2 separate regions of the Homo sapiens genome follow, and region 2 is linked to region 1. Evidence: fine-mapped expression QTL. A gene starts in region 1. The other region holds a variant in brackets. All regions are shown on one strand. Distances are between the middles of the regions.

Evidence for each region. PIP is the estimated chance that this variant, and not a neighbour inherited with it, causes the effect. A credible set is the group of variants that fine-mapping cannot tell apart.
Region 2: its variant is the best candidate, but not a certain one, in a credible set for the expression of OPLAH in blood mononuclear cells (TOPMed, PIP 0.84).

Annotation. Positions count from the first base shown.
Region 1 is chr8:144,058,316-144,063,671 of GRCh38, forward strand. OPLAH (5-oxoprolinase, ATP-hydrolysing) reads right to left here and starts at 2,377. Exons shown (of 27, transcript NM_017570.5): 1 at 2,338-2,377; 2 at 1,547-1,770; 3 at 1,284-1,475; 4 at 665-764; 5 at 458-581; 6 at 181-376; 7 at 1-89. The coding sequence starts at 1,717. RefSeq lists a silencer at 2,184-2,793 and an enhancer at 2,585-3,105.
Region 2 is chr8:143,953,933-143,959,288 of GRCh38, forward strand. It overlaps a transcript of PLEC not described here. Among named protein-coding and RNA genes, the nearest start is that of MIR661, 11 kb to the left of the region's middle. RefSeq lists a silencer at 1-88 and an enhancer at 3,401-4,304. The variant G/A (reference allele first, on the strand shown) is at 3,165.

The DNA of each region.
Region 1 (5,356 bases):
GCCGGGCCCGAGAGCACAGCACTGGAGCCGCTGAAGGTGTCCATGGGCGCCAGGCCGCCATCGGAGCGCATGAACAACACCTGCACATCCTGCGAGCGGGCAGCAGGCGGGCCATGAGGGGCAGGCCAAGGCCCAGGCCCAGGCCCAGGAGTGGGCAGTGGGGGTGCCTCACAGCCTCACCTTGAGTTGGCCCTGGAAGCCACGGCAGAAGCCCTGCACGTAGCGCTGGATGGCGGGCGTGAGGTAGGCGTCGGCACAGGCCGTGTGCCCCCGAGGGACGATGCGCACCATGGGCATGGCCTCCGAGGACAGTGACACGTGCGTGAAGCCCAGCTCCCGGGCCAGCACACCCACCTGCTGCTCATGCTGGGCCCACCTATGACAAAAACCCAGTGGCACCTCGTCTCCCACCAGGCCCGGCACCTGCTCCCGCAGCCCACAGCCCCACCTCACTCACGTGTACGAGTGCATGAGCACCACAGCCAGGCTGCGGATGCCTCGAGATAGCAGCCCCTCCAGCTTCCCACGCAGGGCCCCCAGGTCCACAGGCTGCTGCACTTCCAGCAGGTCCCCCGTGCGGCCTTCCAGAAAAGCCCAGGAGGCCCCGTTAAAGGCCAGCAGGACCCTCCGGCCCCAAATCCCACAGCAGCGGCGGCACACACACCTTTCACAGGCGTCCCGGTGCCCGCCTCTCCACGGTGCAGCACCACGCGTTCGTCCACCTCCAGCACCTCTTCATACAGCACCTCAGGCATGGGCACGGCCTGGGGGCGGGCAGAGACTCAGAAGAGGCCCAGGCCTGAGGGTCCAGGCCGGGGTCCTGTGTGAGTGGGTGGTACAGGTGAGTGGCTGTGTCCCAACAGGCCGGTCGGCAGGCCCAGGAGAGTCATACCTGGCAGCCCCAGCAAGGCTCACCAAGGGGGCAGCTCTCCACCCCCTAGGCAGCTGAGTGCAGCCAACTGCTCCACCCCCACGAAGGCAGCTTCTTCCGGAAACGCAGCAGTAGGTGCGGGGTTCCACCCCTCCTCTGCCTGAACAGGGTAGCTTGGGTGGCCCCACACCAGCATCCAGGGTGGGCATGGCGGCAGGCAGGAACAGGGCATCCTGTGCCCACTCCGAGGGCTAGGAGAACTTGGGGTCCCACTGGGAATTCGGGAGCTTCCTCTTTGTCGGCTGGTGCCCATGAGCCATCACTAATCCAACAACTGCTCTCCCCACAGGGTCAAGGCATCCCTGGGGGGTGTACACCACACAGCCTGGTCCCCAGCCAACATGGAGCTCACCAGGTCAAAGAGGTCCCCACGGGCTTGGGTGCCAATGTGCAGCAGGTCTCGGAAGCCACGTGTCACCAGCAGCGCCACCCGCTCCCCCTTCCGCTCCAGCAGTGCGTTGGTGGCCACTGTGGTGCCCATGCGGATGCTGGCGATATGACTGGAGTCCAGCGGCTGGTCCCGGGGCAGGAGCATGCCGGCCTCCTGGGGACCACGTGGTCAGTGTGGGGCTTCTGGCCGTGGGGTCCCTGTCCACCCGCTCCGCCCTGGCCCACCTGCTCCAGGATGCGGCGGATGCCTTCGGTTGGCGCGTCCGCATAGTTGGCAGGGTCCTCTGAGAGCAGTTTTAAGACCCGCACGTGCCCCCCTGGGCACTGGGCAAAGACGTCTGTGAAGGTACCCCCACGGTCGATGGCAAAGTGGAAGCGGCCCTCGGGGCTGCCCATGGTGGTGGGGCTGGAGTCCCACAGGAGCTCTTCAGCTGGTAGCCCTGGAAAAACTGGACGGAGGCGGGGTCAGCCCGGGCTCACCTGCGAGTGGGACTAGAGGCTCCCCAGCCCTGCGCATGCGGGGGGTTCCTGAGGGAGAGACCCACGGGCACGACTCTGGGAAGAGCCAGAGCCGCAGGCCCAGCTCCGAGGGCAGCCTGGGCCCGAGCGAGAGCCTGGCCGGCGGTCAGCGGCCTGATGCCCCCATGCCCAGCATCGCGCTTCTCCGGGCCCTGGACTGGGCCGAAACCCAGGCAGCGGAGCAGGCACGGGAGGTGGGGACGCCGCTGGACCCTGGAGCCCTCGGGCGGGGTCCCTCAGCACGAAAGAGGCACGGGAGTGCGGGGAGGGGGTTTGGGGCGAGCTGGCCGGGGGACCCCACTTCCCGCTTTGCTCGACCTTCGACCCAAGCCTGGCGGGCCCCGGGACAGGACGGAGCCTGAGCACCGACGGGGCGACCCGAGGCGGGGACGCGTGAGGAGCGGCCCGGGAGGCAGCGGGGAAGGGGCCGCGGAGGGGAAGCCCGGGAGGCAGCGGGGAAGGGCCGCGGAGGGGAGGCCGCCCGGCGCAGGCCCCACCTGGCGCTCGGCTCCGGCTCGGTCGCTCGCGGTCGGCTCTGCCTGCGCTCCCGGCGGCCCTGCCCGCACCAGCCTCGCCTCGGGGAGGAGCCTACAGGGCCCGCCCCCCGCGCCACTGGTCCCGGCACTCGCGGTTACATCAGGCCGGGCCCGCCCCCCGCGCCTCCGTCCTCGCCCTGCGCTTCCCCGGGCCACGGGCGCAGGATCAAGGGCACCTTGGCTCTGCGGCCCTCGGGTCTCCGGCGCCGGGCCTGGGCTCGCCTAGCGTGGGCGCCCCAGGATCCCACCTCCAGGTGTCCTGGGCAAGGGGAGCTGGCAGCCCAGGCCACAACAGGGCTTCCCACTGGCGGACGTCCTTCCCCGTGGAGGGGGCGTTGAAGGACAGAGAGGAGAGGGGAGGCCCTGCGGCCTTCTCTACCAGCCCCAGCTCCCGGCCCCGTGGGCCTCTCCTGTGCGGTATCTCTGGCCTTCTTCACCGGGTCTCCCTCATCTCCAGCCCTCCTTGTGCCAGAGGCGTGTGAACCAGAGCAACTCCATCTTGAATAGGAGCTGGCTAAAAAGAGGCCGAAACCTACTGGGCTGCACTCCCGGACGATTAATGCATTCTAAGTCACAGGATGAGATAGGAGGTCAGCACAACACACAGGTCATAAAAACCTGTATCTCCCAGCCCGGCCAACACGGTTGAAACCCCCTCGCTACTAAAAATACAAAAATTAGTCAGGCATGTGGCACGCGCCTGTAATCTCAGCTACCGGGAGGCTGAGGCAGGAGAATCGCTGGAACCCGGGAGGCGGAGGCTGCAGTGAGCAGAGATCGTGTCACTGCACTCCAGCCCAGGCGACAGAGCGAGACTCCGTCTCAAAAAAAAGAAAAAAAAAAACCCTGTATCTGATAAAACAGGTTGCAGTAAAGAAGTTGGCCAAACCTACCAAAACCATCGTCCTACACTCCCCGCAGCGCCATGGCGGTTTACCAGGGCCACAGCAACGGCACGAAGTTACCCTATATGGTCTAGAAAGGGGAGGCATTAATAATCCACCCCTCGTTTAGCATATCATCAGAAATAACCATAAAAATGGGCAACCGGCCTGGCACGGTGGCTCACGCCTGTAATCCCAGCACTTTGGGAGACCGAGGCGTGTGGATCATGAGGTCAAGAGATCAAGACCATCCTGGCCAACATGGTAAAATCTGTCTCTACTAAAAATACAAAAATTAGCTGGGCGTGGTGGCACGCACTTGTAGTCCCAGCTACTTGGGAGGCTGAGGCAGGAGAATCGCTTGAACCCAGGAGGCGGAGCTTGCAGTGAGATGAGATCGCACCACTGCACTCCAGCCTGGCGACAGAGTGAGACTCCGTCTCAAAAAAAAAAAAAAAAAAATGGGCAACCAGCAGCCCTCGGGGTGCTCTGTCTATGGGGTAACCATTCTTTATTCCTCTACTTTCTTAATAAACGTGCTTTCACTTTAGGCACTCGCCCTGAATTCTTTCTTTCAAGAAATCCAAGAACCCTCTCTTGGGGTCTGGATTGGGACCCCTTTCCTGTAACATTTGTGCCAAGGGCAGTGGACTCCAGCTCCCCATAGACAGGGATGGGGCCCAGGATCAGGCACTTAGGAACCCCTCCCCATGGATGGGCTGCTGCTCATGTCCAGATGACTGCCCTGTAAGTGGCACGTGCCTGCTGTGATGCCACCCCCAGACCCCATGCCCATGGACCTCCTAGTGCCTTCCCATCCTGAGGCCCAGCTGAGGCCCCAGATGATCATGCCACGCCCACATGCAGGAGCCCCACCTGCCTGCTCTGAGCAGTCCGTGGGAAGCAGCTCTGGTCAGCAACCCCACTTCAGCCGAGGACCTTCCCCACCAGCCATACAGCCTCTGCCTGGCCAGCCCACACTCCTGCGGGACTGCCCTGCCTTCTGGTTTCCACCCATCCCCAGCACAGCCTCTTGGTCCTGCCTGTCAGCCCAGGATCTATCAGGAGAGATTCCCACACCCCACCCACCCACACCCCCACCATCTGCTGCCCTGTACGCACTCAGGCTGCCCGCCAGGCCTGTGCTGTAGACCCCAAACTCTCTCACTGCCCTCCACCATCCCCAGCCACCCCCTCGCCTCTCTGTTCACTCCAGGGGCCTGTGCTATCCACTCACAGACGAAACCTCTAAGGGCCTGTCCCCACGCTCCCTAGCGGCATCCCACTGCCGTGCACCTCCAGGTGTCCACCTCCCCCACCTCCGCCTGCCTCCTGGGCTCTCCTGACCCCACTCCACTGCGCGTCTCGGGGGCAGACCAACAAAAGCCAACCCCCACCCACCCAGGCTCAGGCCTCCCTTGGCTGCCCCACCTGCCTCCTACCCCACTGGGCCTTTATCTCTGTCCCTCCATGTTGCTGGGTCCCAGCTTCCCCTTGGCAATGCCACGCAGCCCCTCCACAGCAACCAGAGGCAGCTCCAGGCCTGCGGGATGGCCCGGCCCCTACTCTCTAGTGGCGCCTCTGACTGCATGGCCAGACACGTCCCAAAACCAAGCCCCAGGCCACCTACCAGTGGCCCACTCCAGCAGCGGCTCCCCCACCCAGCGAGCTGCCCCAGCCCCATTCTCATCCCCACACGCAATCTGCCAGAAGTCCTGTTACTTTCACCTTCAGAACACAGAGCTGCTACTTCTCACACCTCCACCCCGGCCAGGCTTCCATCACGTTCCCCCAGGGATATGGCTGTCCCCACCACCAGAGAGCGCAGGGCTGGGAGGACAGAGTCTGCCGTTGCAGTGACTCTGACAGCTTCAGGCACAGACAACTTGCACCCACCTCAGGGCCTGGCACAGGCTGTTCCCTGGGCCTGGAAAGCCGCGCCCCAGCCTGGCAGCTCCCTCGCCCGCTCAGGCTCTGCTCAGAGGTCACTTTCCCAGACCTGGCACCTTCTCCCCGCCGCACATCCTGGAAGAGCCCCAGGGCCCTGGCTTTGCTCCAGAGGCACCGCAGCACCCAGCGGGTTTGCCCAACTCCAC
Region 2 (5,356 bases), 100 kb before region 1:
GCCGCCCCGGGCGCATGCTCCCGGCCGCACCGCGCACCCCTCCCCCCCAGCCTGTGGTTCTGGGGCACGCGACCCCGCTAACCCCAGCCAGACTGCCAGGTCACCAGGCCGGATCCAGGAGCGCTCGGACGGCCCACTCCCCAGCTCCGCAGCCCCCGGCCCACCCCACAGCCCCCCGAGTCCACTGCAACGAGCCATGCTTAGAACAGCCTGTGGGACACACGTGCGAGGGCCTTGAAGCCGTTACCCGCGCCCTGCAGGAGATACCCACCCATCCAGATCTCCCAGTAACTTCCTCAGCCGGCCCAACTCCAGGGCCTGGGCTGGCAGGCTGCTGAGATCAAGCCCCCAGACCCTGGTCGGCCACCTCCCACCTCCCCGGCCCCAGCAGTGTGCCCCTTCCCCGGGCGTCTCGCCTCTGCGCAGCCCTGGGTCAGGCACCTTGTACACTGGCTCCAAAGATGACAGGTCCGACCTGCACCCTGGTCTCTGCCTCTCCCACCCAGCCTCAGGATGCCCCACAGGCAGCCCCACAGGTCCTCCTGGCTGCGCCCCCCAGTCTGCCCACTCGCCAGCATCTCCACTGCCGCCAGATGACACTGCAGCTCCATCCCTCACCCACCCCCCACGACCACCAGGGACCCTTCGCAGCTGCTCTGATCCAACCACCCCTATGGCTAATGGGGTCAGCCTCCTCAGCCCGCAGGAGTAGCTGTGTGTCACTGCGCACGCCTGGGGGAGCAGGTAGCACTGGCAGGGTGAGGTCAGCTCTGCCTCACTCACTGCGCTGCAGGGGGCACGGAGGAATGCTGGGCCCTGCCCACACCAGGGCACCCCTTCAACACTGGCCCCGGGACTGTGCTCCACCCCAGTCCGTGCTGGTAGTGTGGGGCAGGACAGCCTCCACAAGATAGAAGTGACTAGCCTGCCTCAGTCTCCAGCAAGGCCTTTCCTCTGCCTTCACCCGCAAGTCCTTCCCCTCCTGTAAACAGACCCACTGTGCGCCAGGCTGGGGCTGGCATGGAGGACGTGACCATGATCCAGGAGCGAGGCCGGCAGCTCCCACGGGTACGAGCTAACAGGCAAAGGGCCAGAAGCCAGCCCCACCTCCACCGTAGACCCAGCAGTTCTGGAGTCTCTCGTCCCCCTGCCCGTCCCTGCCCTCCCTGGGACTCAGCCAGTTGGGGTGTGGGGAGTCTCAAGAAACACCAGTTGCCAAACTTAAGGAAAATGGTGAAGTGAGGAATTAAAACAGAATTTCAGGCCGGGCACGGGGACTCATACCTGGAATCCCAGCACTTTGGGAGGCCGAGGCAGGTGGACCACTTGAGGTCAGGAGTTTGAGACCAGCCTGGCCAACATGGCAAAACCCCATCTCCACTAAAAATACACAAAAAAATCAGCCAGGCATGGTGTCACACGCCTGTAGCCCCAGCTACTCAGGAGGCTGAGGCACGAGAATCACTGGAATCCAGGAGGCTGAGGTTGCAGTGAGCCGAGATCGCGCCACTGCTGAATTCCCAGCTAGGTTTTACTGAGCTGTATCTGGATAAACCTAAATTTGGCCTGCAAGTGAATCATACTTCCTTAGTAAACCTCAAGTGAAAGTGACAGATATTTATAAAGAGATCTAAAAAGTTCATACATTTTTAAAAAATGCTGTTTTTTTTTTGTTTTGTTTTTTTGAGACAAGGTCTCACTCTGTCACCCAGGCTAGAGTGCAGTGGCTCAATCACGGCTCACAGCAGCCTCGACCTCCTGGGCTCAAGCGATGCCCCCACCTCAGCTTTCTGAGTAGTTGGGACTACAGGCGTGCACCACCACTCCCAGTTCATCTTTTAATTTTTTATACAGACAGTCTGTCTCTGTGTTGCCCAGGCTGGTCTCAAACTCCTGGGCTCAAGCAATCCTCCCACCTCCCAGTGCTGGAATTACAAGTGTGAGCCACACTGCCTGGTCCAGATCAATTTTTTTAATTTAATGCATAAAAATTTTCCTCAGCCTAGGGAGACTTTTTTTTTTTTTTTTTTTTAACTGAGGCAGAATCTCGCTCTGTCACCCAGGCTGGAGTGCAATGGTGTGATCTTGGCTCACTGCAACCTCTGCCTCCTGGGTTCAAGCAATTCTCCTATCTCAGCCTCTGCAGCTGGGACTACGGATGTGTGCCACCGCACCGGGCTAATTTTTGTATTTTCAGTTGAGATGGGGTTTCACCATGTTGGTCAGGCTGATCTCGAACTCCTGACCTCAGGTGATCCACCCGTCTTGGGCTCCCAAAGTGCTAGGATTACAGGCATAAGCCACCACGCCCGGCCAGGGAGATTTTTTTAAAGGATTAAAACGCATAAAATGGAATGTTATAAGATTGGCCAGGCGTGGTGGCTGAGCACTTTCCGAGGCTGAGACAGGAGGATCACTTGATCCTGGGAATTCAGGACCAGTCTGGGCAACAAAGCAAGACACCGTCTCTGCAAAAAACTAAAAAACTATCCTGACACGGTGGCCTGGGCCTGTGGTCCCAGCTCTTTGGGATGCTGAGGCAGAAGGACGGCTTGAACCAGCCCACCCAAGGCTGCAGTGAGCCGTGATTGCGCCACTGCATTCCTGTCTGGGAGAGAGCAAGACTGACTCGAAAACAAACAAAAAGATAGGATCATGGTTTCAAGCTAATGAGAAGGTGAGGGCACACAGCTGTTCAGAGAAGGAACACACAGCTTTTCATGCACCGACTCCGCCTTTAACTTCCCCCCTGAAGTCAAGCTGCCCGCCTGTGAGTGGCCACCATGGTCACCTGTGGTCTCCCGCAGCCAGAGGCTTATCGACAAGCTGCAGCAGCAGCAAGTTCCCATGAAGGAGCCTGAGACTGCCCAGCCCAGCCTGCCTGGAACGGTGGCCACATGGTGCAGCCTTGGAAGTGGGGGCGGCCACGATGACCCTGGGAAGGGCTCAGCCAGCTGCACGTCAGTCAGCTCTGTGGTTCCTTCCCGGCACAGGCTTCCCAAAGGAAGGGACAGCTATGTGGGGACGGGCCGCAGGCAGCCAGCACAGGAAGAGAGGCCACAGGCACCAAGGCCTTGCCGTAGAGGAAACAAGTCCAGGCAACCCCCAAGAAGGTGGAGGTGGCTGCAGCCGGGAGGGGGGCGCCTGGAGACGGGGCTACAGCC[G/A]GGGATTTCAACAGGACAGGCAGGTCCCAGGCTGGCAGCGAAGGGCCCACGAGCAAGAGATTTAGGCAGCGGGGAGGAAAGGGAGCTGGGGTAGAGGAAGCTGGGCGCCCTGGTGACGCAGCTCTGGAGCGTGGGAAGCAAAGCCCCGGCCACTGCCCAGGAGATCTCATCGCTCTGGCCCCAATTCATGGATCACAAAGGAGTCTTGCCGAAGAAGCACGCGGGTCTGTGTGTCCAGGCCAGTGAACTGCAGGGACCCCCAGGCTGCAGTCGGGCTCACCAGCACCAGTGCCTCCGGAAAACCCCTACCTCTAGCTTCTGCTTTGCTGGTCGAACCCAGCATGGCCCCCATGCCCAGCTGGGGTGCCATCAGGTCTCCTGGCCAGGTCTCACACCCTGGGCAAAGCCAAATCCTCATGAAGCTCTCTGCAAATTCCCCACACCACTGGGGACCCCAGAACCAAGGTTGAGCCCAGGCACCACAGATAAGCCCTCCCTCCTTCCCAACCCCTCTGTCTGGGCACAGAGCAACCTCCTCTTCACCAGTCCCCAGGCCCTGGCTGCCCTGGCCACAGGCCCAGGCCAAAGAAGGGGCTCCAACCCTGTCCCCCACACCACACCTGCGAATGGGATGGGCCCTCCCCTGAGGCCCTGCCCACCACCACCCTGCCTGCCCTCAGCTTTGCTCCCTGCCCCATCTTCACGCCCACCCACCCACCCAGCCCCTAACCCCCTGGCAGCCTGCCCTGCTGGGGCTCTCTGGTGGTGGTGGAGCAGGCCAGTGGGCTGTGACCCAGTGACCCCATGCAGAGGCGACCTGCGACAGGCAGACACCCTGCTGGCAGATACCTCCACCTGGGGCCCCCGACAATAGCCCCAGGGAGACCAGGCCCAGTGAAATCCTGCCAGATACATCCAGCACACACTCAGCCCTCCGGAGGCACAGACCCCTGCTCTGCTCCCCGCCTGAGCCTGCGGCAGGTCCACAGGAGCCACCTCACCTGCCCCAGGCTTCTGCCTCGCAGCCTTGGCCCAACAACAGCCCGGCCTCTGCGGATGCTGCGGGACAGGTGGGAGGAGAGCCTTCCATGCTCTGGAGGCCACCCCTGCGCAGGGTGGGGCTCAGTGCGAGCTCAGTCGGGCCAGCCAGCCTGCAGGATTTCTGGGGTGGAGGGCCACCACTGCGGGACTGGATGCCCACCAGGGCTGCTGGGAGTCCCAGTGAGGGCCCAGGAGGCACAGAGGTCATCTCTCCGAGCCACATCCTTCTCCTCTCTCCCCTGCAGCCCAGTACAAGAGTATCTCAATACCAGGTGTCTGCTAGAGACCAATTTGCGGGGAAGGTCCTGGGTCCCACCCACATGACCATCCATTAGGGGGCCCATCGTTCCCAAATATCTCTCAAACCTGTCCTGTGCCCACTGTCTCCACCACACCCTGGCCTGGCCACCACCCTTTCACCTCAAAGACAGTGGTAGCCTCCCTCGTTGCCCCTCACCTCCAAGCACTGGACAACAGCAGCCAGTGCTCTCCGAGCACAAGCAGGTCCCACCACAGCCCTGCCGCTGCCCTCTGGAGGCCCTCCTCACGCAGGCACCTGCTCTGCTGCAGCAGGGTGGACCTCGCCAGGCCTCTGTGGAGAGGCTTCTCACCTGATCCATGGTGGCTCCCCCTTCCCTCCCTCTCAGCCCTCCAACACCGAGACACCTGTGGGCCCCTGGGGCGGCTGCCTCACCCAGCACCAGACACGAAGGTGTCACCACAGGAAACATGGAGCAAGAGAAGAAATGAATTCCTGGAGTTCAGGGATAATGCACTTTCCCAGAACTCTGTTAATATCGTTGACTTCACTAGCAGATTAAAGGAGAAAACCGGTATATTGATCTAGAAAATCTCGACAGCTCATTTGATAAAAACCAGTATTTATAACAAGGAATGAGCTTACATCGTTAACATGCAAATAAATGACCCTTGTAGCACAGCGGGGCACCCTCCCAGTGTGAGGCGAGGCTGCTGAGGGGAGGGCGTGTGAGGGTGAATGCGGACGGTGCAGGCGCAGCTCTCGGTCCAGCGCCAGGACATGGGACAGCATTTACCCAAGTCAGCACTGCTCCTCTTGGCACCTGAAACAACTCAACTCACCATTTACTGGAGCTCAGAGAAAGTTCATTGAGAGGCTGGCTTCAAACGCA